Homo sapiens: one gene and its partners. The protein of the gene in region 1 interacts with the protein of each later gene in a pairwise test. Each region holds a gene or a part of one and is shown on either strand. Other genes may lie near its edges.

Region 1 (4,517 bases):
GAGGCTACGAAGGGGGAAGTGTTTTTCTTTAGAAACCACTAAAACTTTTACTTTTAAAAACTGCATATTGACAGGTATGGTGGCTCACACCTGGAGTCCCAGCACTTTGGGAGGTCGAGGCTGGTGGCTCACACCTGGAGTCCCAGCACTTTGGGAGGTCGAGGCTGGTGGATTGCTTGAGCTCAGGAGTTCAAGACCAGCCTGGCCAACATGGCAAAACCCTACAAAAAATACACACAAAATTAGCTGGGTGTGGTGGTGCGCACCTGTGGTCCCAGCTACTCCAGAGGCTGAAGTGGGAGGATGGCTTGAGTGCAGGAGGCATAGGTTGCAGCGAGCCAAGATCACGCCACTGCACTCCAGCCTGTGAGACAGAGCCAGATCTTATCTCAAAAAACAAAATCTGCATTATTTATATCTGTTTAAAAAAAAAATACTCAGCTGGAGGCGGTGGCTCACGCTTTTAATCCCAGCACTCTGGGAGGCCGAGCAGATCACCTAAGGTTGGGAGTTCAAGACCAGCCTGGCCATGGTGAAACTATGGTGAAAAAATACAAAAAATTAGCCAGGCGTGGGGGGAGGCACCTGTAATCCCAGCTACTCGGGAGTCTGAGGCAGGAGAATCGCTTGAACCCGAGAGGCAGAGATTGCAGTGAGCCGAGATCACACCATTGCACTCCCAGCCTGGGCAACAAGAGCAAAACTCCATCTTAAAAAAAAAACAAAAACTCAAAAACAATCTTCAAAGCAATAAAAAGGAATATTAAGAAAACGAATTCTAACATGAACCTTTATGTAGTACAAGTTCAGGCTCTTGCATTTTTTTTTTGGGTAGGTCTCTTTCTTGTCCAGGCTGGTCTAGAACTCCTGGGCTTAAGCGCTCCTCCTGTGTCAGCCTCCCAAAGCGTCGGGCTTAGAGGCGTAAGCCACGCACTCAGCCTCTGGAAAGGATCTTAAGGGCATGTGGTTCACCAACCTCTACTCTTCCAGGGCCAGTCTAGGGTCCCAACATCTCCATCTTCAGCCCCTAGCTCTGGGCCAGGATGTGCACACACACCCCGATAGGCGCTTCTCCCTCAGAGCTTCGCCACTGTTCGACAGGTCCAAACATGAATGTCACCTCCACTCCTGCCGTATTTGGGCTCACCCAGTTCTCCCCTGGAGGTGGCACTCCCTGTCCCTCCTGTGTGGAGACACGCATTGAAAATGACTGTCTCCAACAACCCAGGACTTTAAAGCAAGGCAAACAAACACACACCAGGAACTTGTTCATCAAGTCTCAAAAACACCAGTATTACCAGTCGTATGATTCAAGGATTTATTAAGTCATACATGCAAAACATAATGCTAATTGCATTAGCAAAAGATCAATGTAAAAACACTCCACAATTCTGCAACTGTCAATTTAAAAAATTCTGTTGTAGTGGCTGAAGGGTCCCACGCTGTATTCTCGCCAGTGAGTTAAGTTGTACAGAACATCGTCAGCACTAGCACAGTTTACAGAACCTCACAGACCCAAAGGAACATCAATAGGCAAAGCGACTACAGGAGGCGTGTGTCCGCGTGGGCGAGGTAAAGAGGGTCAGTATTGGTCAAGTGACAGTGTCGGTAATCTGGCAAGACAGTGATGTTAAGAAGGTTCATAGTTTAAGAATTATCTAAAATATTTTAAAAACTATAAAGCTGCAACACATGATTTTTACACCTAGTTACTAGAAAACTAAGGAAAGCACTTATTAGCTCTGAATAAAGTAACATGGAAAGCACTTTTACTAATCGACAAAAAAACCTTCTAATGCATTATCAGAAAGATTTTATAATACAAGGAGGCATATTGCTCAGTCAGAAGGGGTTCTATAAGAAAAGCACTTACTAAGTTAGCGACTAACAGAACAACCAGTTTAAAGATGAATTAAATGCCCAATTTGGGGAGGCATGGCAGGTGTAAGAGAAAGGAAAAGCTTAAGAAAACATTTCCTGATAATACCAACCTTTCTTTCATCATCTACTGCATTTGACAGAAATTAACCTTTTAGAGTTTTTACCCGTGACACTTTCATTCCTTGTACAATGTAGTGTAAATCTCCACTTCGTATTTTGTCAAAATACTGTCTTTGTCCTTTGATCACACACACCCCACCCGGCACACCCACAGCTAAACAGAATTCTTCATTAGAGGAAATAGCAGTTCTGTTCAAAATCTCCGCAAAAGCTGGTCAGAAAACTCGCTATGAAATCACAAAGACTGATCCAAAGAGCTGAGCTGCTACGCTCACTCCATTACAGTACAATGTTATGTCGGGAACACGTGCTGCTAACTCACTGGTGAGTTCAATGGCAACGCTTCATTCGGGAGGCTGTTCTGCTTTACGCATCTGAGAACTACATAGGAGAGCAAGTGTCTGCACCTCCTAACTGCAGAAGCTACCGTCTTCTCAAAGACGAAGGTCTTTGCAAAGTTCAGTGCTCGGTGTTCTCGGCACAACAATGCAGTGTAGTTCAGAAGGTATTTTGGCAACTCTTAATCTGAACAAGAATGGGGGGGGCGCTTTTGAAAAATAAGGCTTTAAGAAGGCTTGTCATTTTAGGGCTAAATTTTAATAGAATGTGAGTCTGAACTCTTACATTTAGAACAAACAAAACCTTAAAATTACTGATTGGTTCAAAAAATGGTTTTATGGAAAAATTAATCTGTAACAAAAAGTTGGCATTGAGTGCGAAGGCTCCACCGTTGTTTTTTTTTTTTGTTTTTTTTTTTTGTTTTTTTTTGAGCAAAGCGTACAAAGGTTCCAAGGGACAGGACCAAGAACGAGGGGCTGAGACATTTACAACAGCAGGCATTTTCTCTTCCTCTTCTTCACGGGAGGCGGGCAGAGGACTGCTCGGATCGCTTCGTCAAACACTGTCTTGAGGCCTCGCTGTGTGAGCGCCGAGCACTCCAGGTATTTTACAGCACCTACAGGAAACACGACCACACGGCAATGTACACTCGACCCCACTCTCTTCTGATCACACCACCAGCGGGAGGCAGCTCCTGGGGCCCGGGCGCCTTCTGCCGGCTCCCAGCCCTGCTTCCACCTTCCAACGCTGACGTTAAGACCCACAGGGCCTTGCCAGCTGGTTCCCCAAGAGTACACCAGGCCCTGAGTGGGAGACACACACCCTCCTTTCCCAGACTGGACTCCAGTCTCTGTCACTACAATAAAAGAGGTACAAGGAGGAGGAAAAACACAGGATTCCATACCAATCTCCTTAGCCATGGCTAGACCCTGCGGATAGGTGATGGGAGTCAGCTTCTTCTCCTTCAGTTTCTCGATCGTGTCTTTATCATCCCTAAGATCAAGTTTAGTTCCCACTAGGATGATGGGAGTGTTGGGACAGTGGTGCCGCACCTCAGGATACCACTAGATGTGAAGAAGGAACAGAGGTTGTGACACGCTCCTTTACAGATGTCCTTCACCTAAATCACACCCAGCCGGCGGCACTCATGCCAGACACCTAACCTCAGGCAAGGCCTCCCCACGGAGGCTTCAGGTGGTTCCCACCTTCAATTCAAGCCTTGAGCCATAAGGAACATCTCAGGTGTTCCATTAGCAAGCTAGGACTCCCGGATCATGGCTGGACAGAACCACGACCGGACAGAACGGGCTCTACAACCGCAGGGGAAGGGGGGAAGGGAAGAGAAACAAAAGGAAGGGAGTTCCTCCCAAAGCAAATAGATCACTTTGTTTTTGGTAAAACAATTTCTTAGGGTCATCTGAGAAAATTCATCATCTGTTCAGAAATGAGAATAAACTACCTAGCCCAAGGTCTCAGGTCTGCCGCTATTATCTCCACTGAAAATGCCCCTACTGAAGGGCCTCACTTGTCATTTTCACTAAGAAGTTTGTGAAAGAGACTGGAGTAGAAAGAAATGGTCGTTATTTTTATTAGACCAATTCTGAGTGCCTCATTATTTTAATGAGACCCAGGAAACTTCTGAACCAGAACCTGAAGCTTTAAAAATCCACGTATTAGGCCGGGCATAGTGGCTCACACCTGAAATCCCAGCACTCTGGGAGTCTGCGGCGGGTGGATCACTTGAGGCCAGGGGTTCGAGACCAGCCTGGCAAACATGGTGAAACCCCGTCTCTACTAAAAGTACAAAAATTAGCCAGGTGTGTTGGCGGGCACCTGTAATCCCAGCTACTAAGGAGGCTGAGGCAGGAGAATTGCTTGAACCGGGAGGGGGAGGTTGCAGTGACCCAAGATTGTGCCACTGCACTCCAGCTTGGATGACAGTGCAAGATTCTGTCTCAGCCGGGCACGGTGGCCCACGCCTGTAATCCCAGCACTTTGGGAGGCCGAGACGCGCGGATCACCTGAGGTCGGGAGTTCGAGACCAGCCTGACTGACGTGGAGAAACCACATTTCTACTAAAAATACAAAATTAGCCGGGCGTGGTGGTGCATGCCTGTAATCCCAGTTACTCGGGAGGCTGAGGCATGAGAATCACTTGAACCCAGGAGGCGGAAGTT
Region 2 (4,830 bases), on another chromosome or scaffold:
TCCCCCCAGACCCCCTTTGGATGGTGGAGGAGCCCCCGTGTGCTCAGAAGCTGCCCTGGGAATCCCTGAGGGATGGTGCTGGAGCCAAGCTCCTTGGAGGACCAATGTTCTCCCTATCTGGTTTGGAAGCAGAGTAGGCTTCTGGGGACTTAGTCACTTTAGGATTCTTGGATCAGTGTGGGCAAAAGAGGCTCTGGAAGGGCCGATTCAACTTCCGGCCGAGGCGGCAGAGCATCCTCTGGGGAGGAATGCAGGTGGGAGGCGGGCACCCGAGCCAAGGGCAGCCCAGAGCTGCCCCCCGGCAGCAGCGCCCCTCCCGCCCCCCAACTTAAGGTCGCACCCTGGGCCTCCCAAGCTTGGTCTCCTGCCCGCCAGCCCAGAGCATGCACCAGGACCAGCTTTGCAGGGCCCGGTGCGAAATGAAAACATCGCCCTTTGGCCAAAAGTAACCACGAATTTCCAGAAGGCGAGAGCTGAGCGAGAAGTGAGCACAGGGCCCTGGGGACTCCCCAGGTGGCTAGATGTGAAGTGGCCTCGCTGGGTCCCCTCCGGCCTCTCCCAGGCCCCTCTCACCAACCCATCTCTCGGCCATCACAGCTGTGGTTCCTACCTCTGCCCCACCCAGCCTCGGGCCCTGCGAGCCTCCGGGCCTCCCACACTGCCTGGGACAGGCAGGACTTCCTGTTTTACCCGCTACTGTTCAGAAGGCACAGAGGGACCCTGAGGAACGTGAGCTTTCTGAGATGGAGGCCAAGGACCACGGGGAGCGCAGTGAACACCGGGAATGGGGCTGGTGGCCCAGCATGCATTGTGGAAAGGCACGTGACTGCCCGGGACCATTGGCAGCTCCCCTTCCTGGTGATTGGCTTAGGGAAGAACATGTGACCCAACAGGCCGGAAGTCCCCTGTGGAGTGGCTGGACGCCCCCGGGGAAGCCTCCCCCTAGCGGGGGCAGAAGGGAAGCCGCGTTTTTTGCTTGCGTTGCCTTTTGATGGCGCTGGATCGCTGTTGCTGCGCTTTTTTTTTTTTTGAGAAGGAGTCTTGCTCTGTCGCCCAGGCTGGAGTGCAGTGGCGCGATTTCGGCTCACTGCAACCTCCACCTCCCGGGTTCAAGCGATTCTCCTGCCTCAGCCTCCCAAGTAGCTGGGAATATAGGCACGCGCCACCACGCCAGGCTACTTTTTGTATTTTTGGTAGAGACGGGGTTTCACCATGTTGGTCAGGCTGGTCTCCAACTCCTGACCTTGTGATCCACCTGCCTCGGCCTCCCAAGCTGCGCTCTTTTTATTGAACGCAGGCCCTCGCGGTGGCTCAGAGCCCCCGGTAGTGCCCTCGGAAGCCGCATGTGCTGGAGGCACGTTGGAGGCAAGGATCCTGCAGCCGCGACTTGAATCGCATGGGTCACGGAGGCCACGCTGGAGCCCCCAGAGCTGGCTCGGATTGCGAGTTCTGATGGAGTTGCTTTTTCCAGGAGCGCTGCCAGCGCTGAGCGTTCACCTGGTGATCAGGCGCATCCCGGGAAGCAGGCCGAAGCCACCACGCCCTTGCAGGGCCACACCGGCCAACCAGCTGTTATCTGCATGGATGAGGAACGCATTTAAAGAACAGCAGTGTTTTCAAATAATGCTGGATAAGGCTTTGTTTTTTAAAGGTAGTGGAAGTTTTAAGGGTGCCCCGGGGTAATTTCTGTAGTCAGGGTTCCCTCCGGGTTAGGGTCTACACGGCCATGGCGGGCTGCACGGTGCACGCTTTATCACTGAGACCTGACTCCTAAGTTACTGTTAACAAGAGTCCCTGGGGCCAGTCAGCTTACACACAGGCCTAATATAGCAGAAAGAATGATGCAGGCCGTTAAAACAGCCTTTGGAAAGAGGTTTTCAATTTTTCAATCACAAAGCAAATCAAGCTTCCTAATTAGCTACAACACGGCTGGAAAGCTCAGCTCCTACTAGGCTGCAAGCCCTTGCTGTCTGCTTTCTTGCATGACCGTCTCTGTTACAGGAAAGGTTTGGCTGCTTTCTAATCTCACTCATGTTCAAAGAACTCGTGGCAGGCAGTAGTAACCATGGCAACAAAGGCCATGAATTCCTGGAAGTCACATTCGCCGTCTCCATCATTGTCCAGTGTTTCCATGACTTTGTCCACAACCTCCTGCTCTTTGATTTCCTAAGAGAGATAAAAGGAGTTGCCGACCTTGTTTTTAAATGGAATTTTGGACCATCAAAACATGATTAAAAGTTGAGTGACTCTGATAATTTGTGTCCGAAATAACCTAAGAACATCAAATGCAAAATATCAGAAAAGATGTCTCATGTGACCAGGGGGCTGTTGTCCAAGCAGAAATCTCTGGGGGTCAGTGTCTGGCCCTGAGCTACTGGAAAAGGCTGAATGGAACAGCCAAGAGGTGAAAAACTGAAGGTTGTTATCATACTTAAAATACCTGAAAAAAAAAAATACCATCTAGATCAGCCTGAGCAAATGTCTTGAAATAAAAATAAACTTTTGGCCCTCCTAAACTTTTCGTGTGTTCTGTGTGTGGAAGTCCCTGTCTCAAAGGCTTCCAGTGGAATTTAATGTTTTGAAAGTCTTCTTTGTTGCTGAAGTAACTCTTGGGAACGTGGCCTACATTTGTTAACCCTGTATTCTTTTTCCCACTTGAATTGCTTTCTAGGTGTCATGAAACTTTTTCCTGACAGTTCTGCCTGACATTGAAGCCAAATGAATGGTGTGGCTGTTAAGTGATGTGCACAGCCTCAGAGGAACAACCACAGTGCAGGGCTACAAACGTGGTGGGAAAAATTTGGGTATTGAACACTGATGAAGAGCATAAATGCAGAGTAACAATTCTCCGGGATAGGAAGGCTTGGCCTGAAGAAGTCAAGTGTAATGTACAACAGCTGCCTTGGCTATAAGACACACAGGGGTCAGGCACGGTGGCTCACACCTGTAATCCCAGCACTTTGGGAAGCTAAGGCAGGAGGATAACTTGAGCACAGGAAGTTTGAGACCAGCCTGGGCAACATAGGGAGACTCCATCTCTACAAAGAAAAAATAAAACAATTAGCTGGGCATGGTCCATGTGCCCGTATTCCCAGCTACTCAGGAGGCTGAGGCGGAGGATCGCTTGAGCCTGGGAGGTTGAGGCTGCAATGAGCCAAGATTGCACCACTGCACTCCAACCTGGGTGACTGAGCAAGACCTTATCTCAAAAACTAAAAAAGTAAACAAAACATACAGAAGATTGTAACTCCACGGGGGTAGAGGTGGGGAGGCACCTGTGGATGGGCAGGAGCAGGGCACTAACTTCAATTATATTATACATCTGCTTCCGAACTGAAATTACCTTGATAAAACAGGGCAGCAAATGTTTGTGATGCCTTGAAATGCTTACCATGAATTATTTATCATTTACAAATTGAAATTCCCAAGTGCAAAGCTTTTTCTATGTATAAAAATAATAATAGTAGCTACTATTAGTTGAGCTTTCACTATATGTTAAGCACTTAAGCACTGTCCCGCTTCACCCTCACAACAGCCCTTGTTCAGAAGAAGAACCTGGGACTCTCAGATCAAGTCAGAAGGCAAGATTGGTGGAACTAGAAAACTGCATGTGTGAGTGGGACTGCTGTCACTCTGTCGGCTTGAATGCCTGAGAAAACCAGTCCTGGAATCAGATGTGGGGACACCCTCTGCAAAGTTTCAGGCCTGTCTGCTCCACTCTGAACCATTCACGGTGGGGCAGTGTTTGGTGGGAGTGGGGACAGGAGAACCAGCCAGCGCCCCCTCCCCCTGCCCTGAAAACACGGACTGCCGTGCTGCTGGAGCCAGGGCTTGCCGTCTTGCACTGAGAGGCTTGGCCAGCTCAGGAGGGCAGCTCCCCGTCCCCATGCAGCAGAGCCCTGCCCTGGTATTTATCCTGGAATAGGGCTTGGTGAGACACTAGTGCGCTGGCTCATTGTCTGGTCATTTATCCCGTTTGTGATTGCTCATATCAGTGACCCAGGAAGCCCTTCACTACGTTTCATATGTGCACACCACTGGTGCTTCACTCTGGCTCAAGGCGTGCCTCAAGCCAGCCTTGGTTCTAAGAGAGCATCAGGTACCAGGGGGATCACAGTTCACTTCCATGAGGGCATGAGGTGGGCAGTAAAGACAGGTGGGTCTGATCCAAGGACAGTGGAGACGGTGGGTAGGAAAATGAGCCCTAATGCAAGGGTCTGGACATACTTCCACCACAAGCCACAGCGGGAACTGCCTGAAGAACAGGGCTTGCCAGGAGCCCCCACACAGCTTCCTAAAGTAGGGGCCCCAACTAAAGACAGTTCCTCACCAATATCCGTTACTCCACAGAGCCTCCTGCAAAGCCCCAGGGCTTCCAAAGGATGTGTACAGACCCCTGTCACGTCCTCAGTTAAGCCAGTCATGGTCATTCATCCATGTGCCAGGCTGGGTGCCCCAGAGCAGAAGCCATGTCTGTCGTGCCTGCATATCTCACAGTTCTTAATTAGTGCTCAGTCAGTGTTTACTGAGTGAAAGTCTGGCATATCTTATCTCCATAGCAAATACTAAACTTCTAGCTAAAGCCAAAATATATCCTTTTCCTAAAAACATTCCCAAAGCTTATTTTTAACAGTTTCCTTTTATGTTCCCTTTGGTCCATGGTAAGTAATGAGTCTAGCATTATTTGGGACGCTTTGGCCTTTGGGACCTTGATGCACCTACTGTACACAAGATGGTTGATAAGGAAATGAAAACAAGGGGCTCATTTGAGCCAGCCCCACACTGAGGGTTCCGTTACTCAAACAAGTTTGCAGAAGCAGCCCAGGAGTC
Region 3 (4,351 bases), on another chromosome or scaffold:
ACTGGCCTAGATCAAGATCTCCTTAGTAAGGCAGTAAAGAGTTAAACTGTCCTGAATCCCCCTGCTTCTCATGGGGTGATGGCCTCAAGCTAATTAGGAGACACTGAGGGTTTGGGTTTTTTTTTTTCTAAAACCAGAAGAGTGGAAGTCTGGGACTATACTCTTATTTCTTTGAGCTCACTAAGGGAATAAAACCTATTCACCAGTTCTATCCATAGGGGAAGGCAAAGGCCTTAATTTCCAAGTAAGAATCTGCTCCTCCCCACAGCCTGAAACCTGACCTGTCTGTGAATGTGGTGGCCACCCAGCCAGTGACCGCTCATTTGCCAGGGACACAAAGACCATCACAAAGGCTGCACTGGAGTCAGAATCTTGGGCTGGCACTTAGCTTGGCTACTAACTTAGACTGGGTCCCAGGAATGATAACACCAGTGAAAAATCACAACAGCTAATAATTACAGAGACTTCCTGTCTGGCAGGAAGTGCTTTATAGCACAACAACACGACAGCCCTATCTGATAGGTGCTATTATTATCCTCATTGTACAGACGAGGACATTGAAGAACAGAGAGGTTAAGTAACTTGCTCCTGGTAACAAAGCTGTTGAGGACTGAACCAGGACTCAGACCATTCAGTCTGACTCAAGCTCACCCTGGGCTCTACTAATATGTGTACAGCTGATACAAAGCCCTTTCTAGACAAAGCTCTGTCATCCTCAAGACAGAAACTTGGGGATCTAATGTGGGTCCTGTACTTACGGATCAGGAAACAGAAGCTTCAAGATATTAGGGCTCACATGGGCACACTGTGGGGATAAGCACCCTCAAGCATCCCCAGTGTGGGTGCTCTGGTACCCCACTTTGAGGAACAGTGTGCTCCATCATTCTGCCTCTGGCCAGCTGCTCCGATTCAGAAGTCAGCAAACTATGAACCCATATGCCAAATTCAGTCTGTTTTGTATGGTACTCGAGCTACAGATGGTCTTTATATTTTTAAATAGTTGGGAAAAAAAAAAGCTGAAGAAGAATAATATTTCATGATATGTGAAAATTACGTGAAATTCAAATTTCATTGCCCATAAATATTTTTATTTATGCACAGTCATTCTCATTCATTTACCTATGGCCTATGTAGCTGCTTTTGTGCTATAATGGCAGAACTGGGTAGTTGCAGCAGAGACCATCTGGTTCACGAAGCCACAAGTATTTACTATCTGGCCCTTTATAGAAAAAGCTCACTGACCCTGGTCTAGTCTGCTAACCAACACAGGAATCCTCTTTATAGTCGCCCTCCCCACCCCGGCTTCTGCCTTCACAGCTCCAGTGGTGGGGAGCTCACTACTGAACAAGGCAGCCAGTTCCATCTTTGCAAGGCTCTGGGGATAGCTATTTATACTGAAACCGAACTGCTTATTCCTGTAACCACACACCATGCCCTTGGAGCCCTGCACATTCAGTTCTATCAGTCCTCCCCAGCACCCATCAGTTTTTTTTTTTTTTTTGAGATTGAGTCTCACTCTGTCACCAGGCTAGAGTGCAGCGGCGTGATCTTGGCTCACTGCAACCTTCGCCTCCCAGGTTCAAGTAATTTTCCTGCCTCAGCCTCCCAAGTTGCTGGGACTACAGGCGTGTGCCACCACGTCCAGCTAATTTTTGTATTTTTAGTAGAGACAGGGTTTCACCATGTTGGCCAGGATGGTCTCAATTTCTTGACCTCGTGATCCACCCGCCTCGGCCTCCCAACGTGCTGGGATTACAGGCGTGAGCCACCGTGCCTGGCCCGCCATCAGTTTCTTTCTTCCCTCTGGCATCAACCCTTCCCTGTCCCTATATATGACCTCTGTCGTTCCTTACCAATCCTCTGGGAAGCAGAGGGAGAATGACAGCACCTCTGTGTTGCCAATAGGGGAGATGGGCAATGGAGAGGGACCGTGACATAGTTAGGAGCAGAACCAGAGCTGGAACCAGGTGTCCCGCCTCCCAGCCTGGTGTCTCCTCAACATCGCTTAAGTGTCCACTTTCCAGCCCATCATTCCCCAACTGGCCCCCAAGGGCCTGAAGTGGTCTCTCACTTCTGTGATTCCTTCCTGTGGCTCCCCCGGCTTGGCTTTTGTGGATTCAAAGACAGCTCTCTCTGACTTTTTCACTTTTCCCCTCCAGGGCTCAGTCTTCAGGCTCTGGGCTCTTCTCCCCTCACACCCAGCTCCCACCACCCCAACCACTGAGGCTCATCCCCAGGGACTGCCCATATTTACCATCTCTGTTGTTTGCAACTTACTGTTGGCAATCAGCTAGGATTTGGACTCCAAGTGCTTAGGGGTAAGCTGACAGCCAGAAATGGAAAATGGGTTTCTTGATATCTGTCTATAAAACAGAGCCAGTAGGCCGGGTGCAGTGGCTCACGCCTGTAATCCCAGCACTTTGGGAGGCCGAGGTGGGTGGTTCATGAGGTCAGGAGATCGAGACCATCCTGGCTAACACGGTGAAACCCCGTCTCTACTAAAAATACAAAAAATTAGCCAGGTGTGGTGGCGGGTGCCTGTAGTCCCAGCTACTTGGGAGGCTGAGGCAGGAGAATGGCGTGAACCCGGGAGGTGGAGCTTGCAGTGAGCCGAGATCGCGCCACTGCACTCCCGCCTGGGCGACAGAGTGAGACTCTGTCTCATAAAAAACAAAAAACAAAAAACAAAACAGATCCAGTAAGATTTGTCTGCAGAGAATATCTGGAAAGGGTTTGAAATCCTTGAAAGAAGAGGGCTGTGACAACACCAGCTGGTACAAAGGATCTGGAATCCTCTCAGCTACGGGTGCTGCCCTTGGGAAGCTCCCCTACTCATCGATGAGGGGAGGGGCCTGCAAGTGTGAGACCCATGTACATGTCCTTATCTGAGGGTAGAATAAGAGTTGTGGCTCTTGGAGGGTGGGACAGACATCAATTCAAAAGAAGCACTGGGCAGCTCGAGGCAGTGTGGTGAGGGTACAAAAGAAGACCTGGGTCTGGATTCTGACCTTGAGTGGCTGTGGAACCCTGGAAAGCGATGCTTTCTCTTAGACTGACTTTTGGTGAAATGGGAAAAAAATAGCAAAACCGCACAGGGTCACCATGAGATTAATACCCAGGACGCTAGCAGAATACCTGGCAGAGTTATTATGGTGTTTGCTCACAAAATGTTACTTTCCTTTTCTCCCTTCCTCCTTCCTGCTATGTGCCAGGCACCGTGCTAGGTGCTGAGGGTCTGGAGAAATAAGGCACAGTTCCTGCTCTCAAGAGGTTCAGCCTAGCTGTGGAGACAGACATGCACAACCACTAACAGAGTGGGACGGTGGCATATTAGTATAATGAGGGTAGAAATAATAAAAATAAGCCAAGCGTGGTGGCTCACACCTGCAATCCCAGCACTTTGGGAGGCTAAGGTGGCTGGATCACTTGAGGTCAGGAGTTCAAGACCAGCTTGGCTAACATGGTGAAACCCCATCTCTACTAAAAATACAAAAATTAGCCGGGCATGGTGGTGTGCACCTCTAATCCCAGCTACTCGGGAGGCTGAGGCAGGAGAATCACTTGAACCTGGGGGGCAGAGGTTGCAGTGAGCTGAGGCTGTGCCACTGCATTCCAGCCTTTTTTGAGACTCTGTCTCAAAAAAAAAAAAAAAAAAGAAATAATAAAAATGATGATGGTGATGATGACAGGAAGAGCTAATGTTTCCATACACTCACACTGTGCGAGACACTCTCAGAGGACTATCTTGTTTCATTCCAGCAACCACCCTGTGAGGCAGATGCTGTTAGTAACATTCTACCAAGGAGGAAGCGGAGATTCAGAGCCCAAAGTCATAGGGCAAGGGGGCCTGAGGATCTAGGATAAAGGGAGAGTAAAAGAGCAACGTCGGGCTTGGGGCAAGCCTCAGGGAGGAGGTGATGATGCCCTGTACTTTGAAGGGTGATCTGGAGCTCCTCAGTGGGGGCACAGGAGCAAGCAACCCAGGCAGAGGGACCAGCAAGCACAAAGGGGTGTGTGTGTGTGTGTGTTGGGAGGGGAGGTGGATGAGAACTTTGTGATTCCAGTGACTGACACTCATTCCTGATTAGCATCATTAGAATCACCATCTGAGGGATGTCAATTCCATATGGCTCTACAGCTCTACTATCAACAAGGGCATGGGAGTCGGCAGGCTTGAGAAGAGATGGTACTCCTGCAGCAAGGAGGGGCCTGGTTTACAGAATTATAAGCAGCTATACTGTGTCATCAGTAATCACAGCCAGGGAGCAGTACTTCCTCCGCCTCTTTATCTAAAAGAATATGGAATACTGAGGGGATTAACTCAAACTCTTAATTCTACTTTTGGAGCCTC
Region 4 (4,351 bases), on another chromosome or scaffold:
CCATGGCAGTGCTGCTGCTCACCCCCATGGCTGTGTCATCCATGGCCAGAAGAAGCCCACTGTCTTACCTGATGGTGGCTGTAGTGCCGGATAAATGCTTTCAGGAAGGATTTGGGCCACTCGCTTAGATAGCACATGCCACTCTCCAGAAGCCCCTTACCACCGAATTCTTCTGTAACATCAGTGCCAGGGGACCTTCACTCTGTCTTGTCCTGACCTTAGCTGGGTTCTGTCCACTAGTCAGTTTCATGGCCACTCCTTCCCCCTCCCCAGGCCCCTGCACAAGCCCCGCAGGGGGAGCGTCAGGTTACATCATTTCAACTTTGTTGACGTCAATGGCTGGCACTCTAAGGTCAGGTTCAGGAGTTGTGTCATTAGCACCTCAATCCCAGCGGGAGGCCCTGAATTCCACTCCCTGAGTTACCTCAGTGTGAATCTCTACACTGTATTTTTGGGTCTCTCTTCAGCCCAAGAACGGGTAACAGAGCAAGGTGGAAGCTTGGGGGGTCACTGGGTCCCTCTCTCCTCCAGCCTCCCGGCCCAGGGCCTCAGCCCTTCATAGAGAGGCTGCAGCTGGAAGCTGCATGCTCTCCACTGACTCGTCCTCAGAAGAGGGCCAGAGCAGCGTTACCTCTTTCTGTGGGTATCCCAAGGGTTCTGGAAGACCGGGGCAGTCTGTCCGTCCCACCACAGAGGGGACATGCTGGGCCCAGCCCTTGGGATTTCTGGCCTGAGCAGGGGGTACAGAATGCAGATTTCTGGCCTAGATCTGACAGTACCTCCTTCCCTATAAAATCAGACTGAGCATTTCATTAAAGGTGAGAATAACTTGGGAGGCTTGACTCACAGCTTGGGCTTTAGTTGCTACAGAAGTTCAGCCCACCTGCTCCAAAAGGGCACCCTTGCTTTCTCCCTACCTCAGTGCAAGGAGTTCCCAGCTAGGGCTGGGTGCGGTGGCTCACGCCTATAATCCCAGCACTTTGGGAGGCCGAGGTGGGCAGATCACCTGAGATCAGGAGTTTGAGACCAGCCTCGCTAACATGGCAAAACCCTGTCTCTATTAAAATACAAAAATTAGCTGGGCGTAGTGGTATGCCCCTGTAATCCCAGCTACTTAGGAGGCTGAGGCAGGAGAATCACTTGAACTCGGGAGGCGGAGGTTGCAGTGAGCCAAGATTGCACCACTGCACTCCAGGCTGGGTGACAGAGCGAGACTCCATCTCAAAAAAAAAAAAAAAAAAAGGAGCTCCCAGATGACAGGAGATGGAAGCATCTGCTTGAGTGGGTGGTACTAAATCTTAGGGTGGGAGGCTGGCCTTTCGCACCCACCACCTCTGAAAGCTCATCTCTCCACATAGCCTGGATTCTCTCACCCCCTCTGCTCAGGCCTGTGGGGCAGGGGTGCCTCCCTGAGACAGGCCTGGGCTGCCCACACTGGGCTGTGATGGAGGAGTATGAACTCTCCTAGCAGCAGGGGCGAGAAATATCTTTATAAATTAGATATGTTGCTTGCTTGCTCAGTAGTTTCTTGTACCCCAAACCAAACCTAAATCCAAACTCCTTACTTTGACTTATCAAAGCCCAATCTCCTCTCCTACCAGTCTTCCTGGCTACAAAGTCCTCCTTTCAGTTCTTCCCACAGGCCGAACGCTCTCCAGCCTCAGGGCCTTGGCGTATGCTTGTTCCCTCTGCTTGGACTGCTTCCCCCACTTCCCTGCCTGGCCACCTCCTTTCCAGAGAGGTCTTCCCTGCTCACCTACCCAGACAGAACCGACTCCTGCACCCCGGAGATGTTTCAATTCCTTCACAGATCGACTACAATTTGTAATTTAAGGTTTGTTTTCTCTGTGAATTGTTTTCTCTGTCACCTTCGCTGGACAGAAAAATCCCATGAGGGGAAAGATGAGATCTATTTTGTTCTAAATTTCTCGTGCCCAACACATAATAAGCTCTCAATAAAGAAGTATTGAATGAATTTATCTGCCTGCCTCCTGGTATGCCCACATGGTTCAGGTGGGAGGGAGGTAACCATGGGAACAGAAGGGGAAGGGAAATGATGTTGTCCCCATAATGCCCCATGCGGTGGCACCAGGAGCTTTTCATGGGCTTTATTCCATTTGTTTATCACATTGGGGCAATATTCTCACATAATGCTGCAGCTGAGGAAACTGAGGATCAGAGAGGTTAAGTCAACTCACCCAGTGTCCCACAGCTAATAAGCAGAGCTAGGATATGAACCTAAGTCTGACTCCAAAGCCCATGTTCTTTCTGCTACGCCACGATGACCATTGATTGTGACTCAGGCCTGGCAGGGGAAAATAACTCCCAATGTCCCTTTAGGCCAAAATTTCCAACCCTTTGCTTTCAAGAACTCCTTTCTTATCTCTAAGCCCCATCTCTCTCCTCTGCACTGTTAAGAAAACACTTTTGGCTTGGTCTATAATGAGTGAGAAAATGGGACATCTTTTGAATGACTCTTTGAACCCAAGTGTTGTACTTTCTAAGGGGAGCATAAAAATCACGTCTGCTTTGGCTGAAGAGAGGACACCCTGACTAAAGACTTCTAGCCTAGTTATAACCCTGGGTGGTGACACAAGAAAGAAGATGGGACAGAGAATCTCTTATTGACTGAGGCCTTAGGACTGAAGTTCCCTCTTATCCCTCTTTGCAGAAATGTATCTTGCTGTAGCATTAGATTTCAGTAGTGAGGAACTGTCCTCCTTAGACCATGTTTATTGTGCATTAGGTGGAAAACTGAGGTAGAAGAGTAAGGTAACTTGCAATGTTAGGGTCTAGGGTTCTGTTTTTCTCCCTTCCCTGGGCCAAGCACAGATCACTTGGAGATGGTCTTGGTGGAAAGGAGCCTGTCCCTGAAGGTCCCGGGCTCCTGGCCCTTGTCAGCAGCCCTCCAGCACTGACCACTGCTCCCAGAGGTCTCATCCTACCTGTCTCCTGAGACAGCTGCAGAGCTCAGCTCTTCGGCCTCATGTCCACCCACTGTCACCGGTTAGGTCACTCAAACCCTGTCCTCAGTTCTGCCATTGCTCGCTTCACCACATCCCAAGTGGGACTCAGCTGCAGTGGAACAGATCCTTCCCCTGACACACTGGAATCTCCTTGTCCTCACTCAGAACATTCCATCTACCGCCATGTCTGACTTGTCTATTTAAACAATTCTCTATAGACCATACCAGCTAACAGGGAAAATAGATCTGGTTTGTGTAGAATGCTCTTTAAATATGAATCTAAGTGATAGATCATCAAAAACTTGAAAACTGGTTACACAGGAGATCCTGCAAAGGGAGGGATCATTCTCACCCAGAAATATCTCAGAAAGACTCAGAAAGAACAGCACTGCTTTGTTCTCTGACCACACCTGAGTGAAAACACACACTCACACCTCACTCTTCAGGCATTAAAAGGCACCAGGAAAGAAAGCTGAGAAAGATGGAAGTTTCTCTAAAGCCTGAACGTGCAGTAACAATACCACCATCACTTAAATTACTTTTTCTTTGTAGTCTTCCCTGTGGTCCAAATCAAATTACTTTTCCAATATTAAAAAATTATATAGTTTCCTCTCTTCTGGAATTCTGCCTAGCACTAGCCCGAGGATCAGTTTTGGGGAGCCCCTGCTCTAGGGTGCTTTGTACCATTGTCCCAGTACCCTGTACTCAGGTACATACGAAGCACTAGGCACGCAGTAAATCTCCCACACTCCTTTCTTCCCTTCCTTCCAAACATGTTCTTCATTTCCCTGTGGAACCCAGAACCATGTCATGCACACAAGCGCACGGTGCCCAGTGGCGTCCGTTGATGAAACGTGAACTCTATTTGCTCTAGTCTAGAGCCTTCTTTCTGACCTGTTGGCCCAGGCCTGGGTCACCACCTTTCCACTGGTCCTCAGCACATATATTCTGGGTCTGCCTCCCCTTAGTTCACTTCCAATTCATCACAAAAAAGTAGGTCCCAGCGACTCCATCTATCCACAATGGACAGCTTTCCTCCTCTCATCTGAATCCTGCCTTCATTTCAGATGAGGCCCAAGTCCCCTCTTCTAGAGTCTGGAGCCTCCTCACCTGCCTCCCAGCCTGAGTCTCTTTCTGTCTGGCTCACTTATCCCAGCCAGCCTCTCCCTACTGACTGTCCACTGCCTGAGGAACTTTACGTGTATTATCTTTAATATCCTAACAACCCTCTGAGGTGAACGTTATCATCCCCACTTTACAGATGAGGAAACAGAGGCTCAGAGAAGTGACAGAATTGAGACCCCAACCTATGCCTACTGGCTCCAAAACCTCTGCTTTTTTTCAATCTACCACATGGTATCCACTTATGAAATATAACTCCTTTG

Evidence for each region.
Region 2: the proteins of RAC1 (region 1) and S100B interact in binary tests that used the Homo sapiens proteins (3 or more experiments, as listed by UniProt).
Region 3: the proteins of RAC1 (region 1) and TOM1 interact in binary tests that used the Homo sapiens proteins (3 or more experiments, as listed by UniProt).
Region 4: the proteins of RAC1 (region 1) and USH1C interact in binary tests that used the Homo sapiens proteins (3 or more experiments, as listed by UniProt).

Annotation. Positions count from the first base shown.
Region 1 is NC_000007.14:6,400,755-6,405,271, reverse strand, and holds the end of RAC1 (ras-related C3 botulinum toxin substrate 1), read right to left. Parts: intron 3,405-4,517; coding exon 3,245-3,404; intron 2,957-3,244; coding exon 2,826-2,956; 3' UTR 1,305-2,825; downstream 1-1,304. UniProt on the Homo sapiens protein: Plasma membrane-associated small GTPase which cycles between active GTP-bound and inactive GDP-bound states.
Region 2 is NC_000021.9:46,597,338-46,602,167, forward strand, and holds the end of S100B (protein S100-B), read right to left. Parts: intron 2,167-4,830; coding exon 2,026-2,166; 3' UTR 1,267-2,025; downstream 1-1,266. UniProt on the Homo sapiens protein: Small zinc- and- and calcium-binding protein that is highly expressed in astrocytes and constitutes one of the most abundant soluble proteins in brain.
Region 3 is NC_000022.11:35,302,809-35,307,159, reverse strand, and holds part of TOM1 (target of Myb1 membrane trafficking protein), read right to left. Parts: intron 1-4,351.
Region 4 is NC_000011.10:17,533,651-17,538,001, forward strand, and holds part of USH1C (harmonin), read right to left. Parts: intron 236-4,351; exon of another isoform or gene 138-235; coding exon of another isoform or gene 69-137; intron 1-68. UniProt on the Homo sapiens protein: Anchoring/scaffolding protein that is a part of the functional network formed by USH1C, USH1G, CDH23 and MYO7A that mediates mechanotransduction in cochlear hair cells. Required for normal development and maintenance of cochlear hair cell bundles.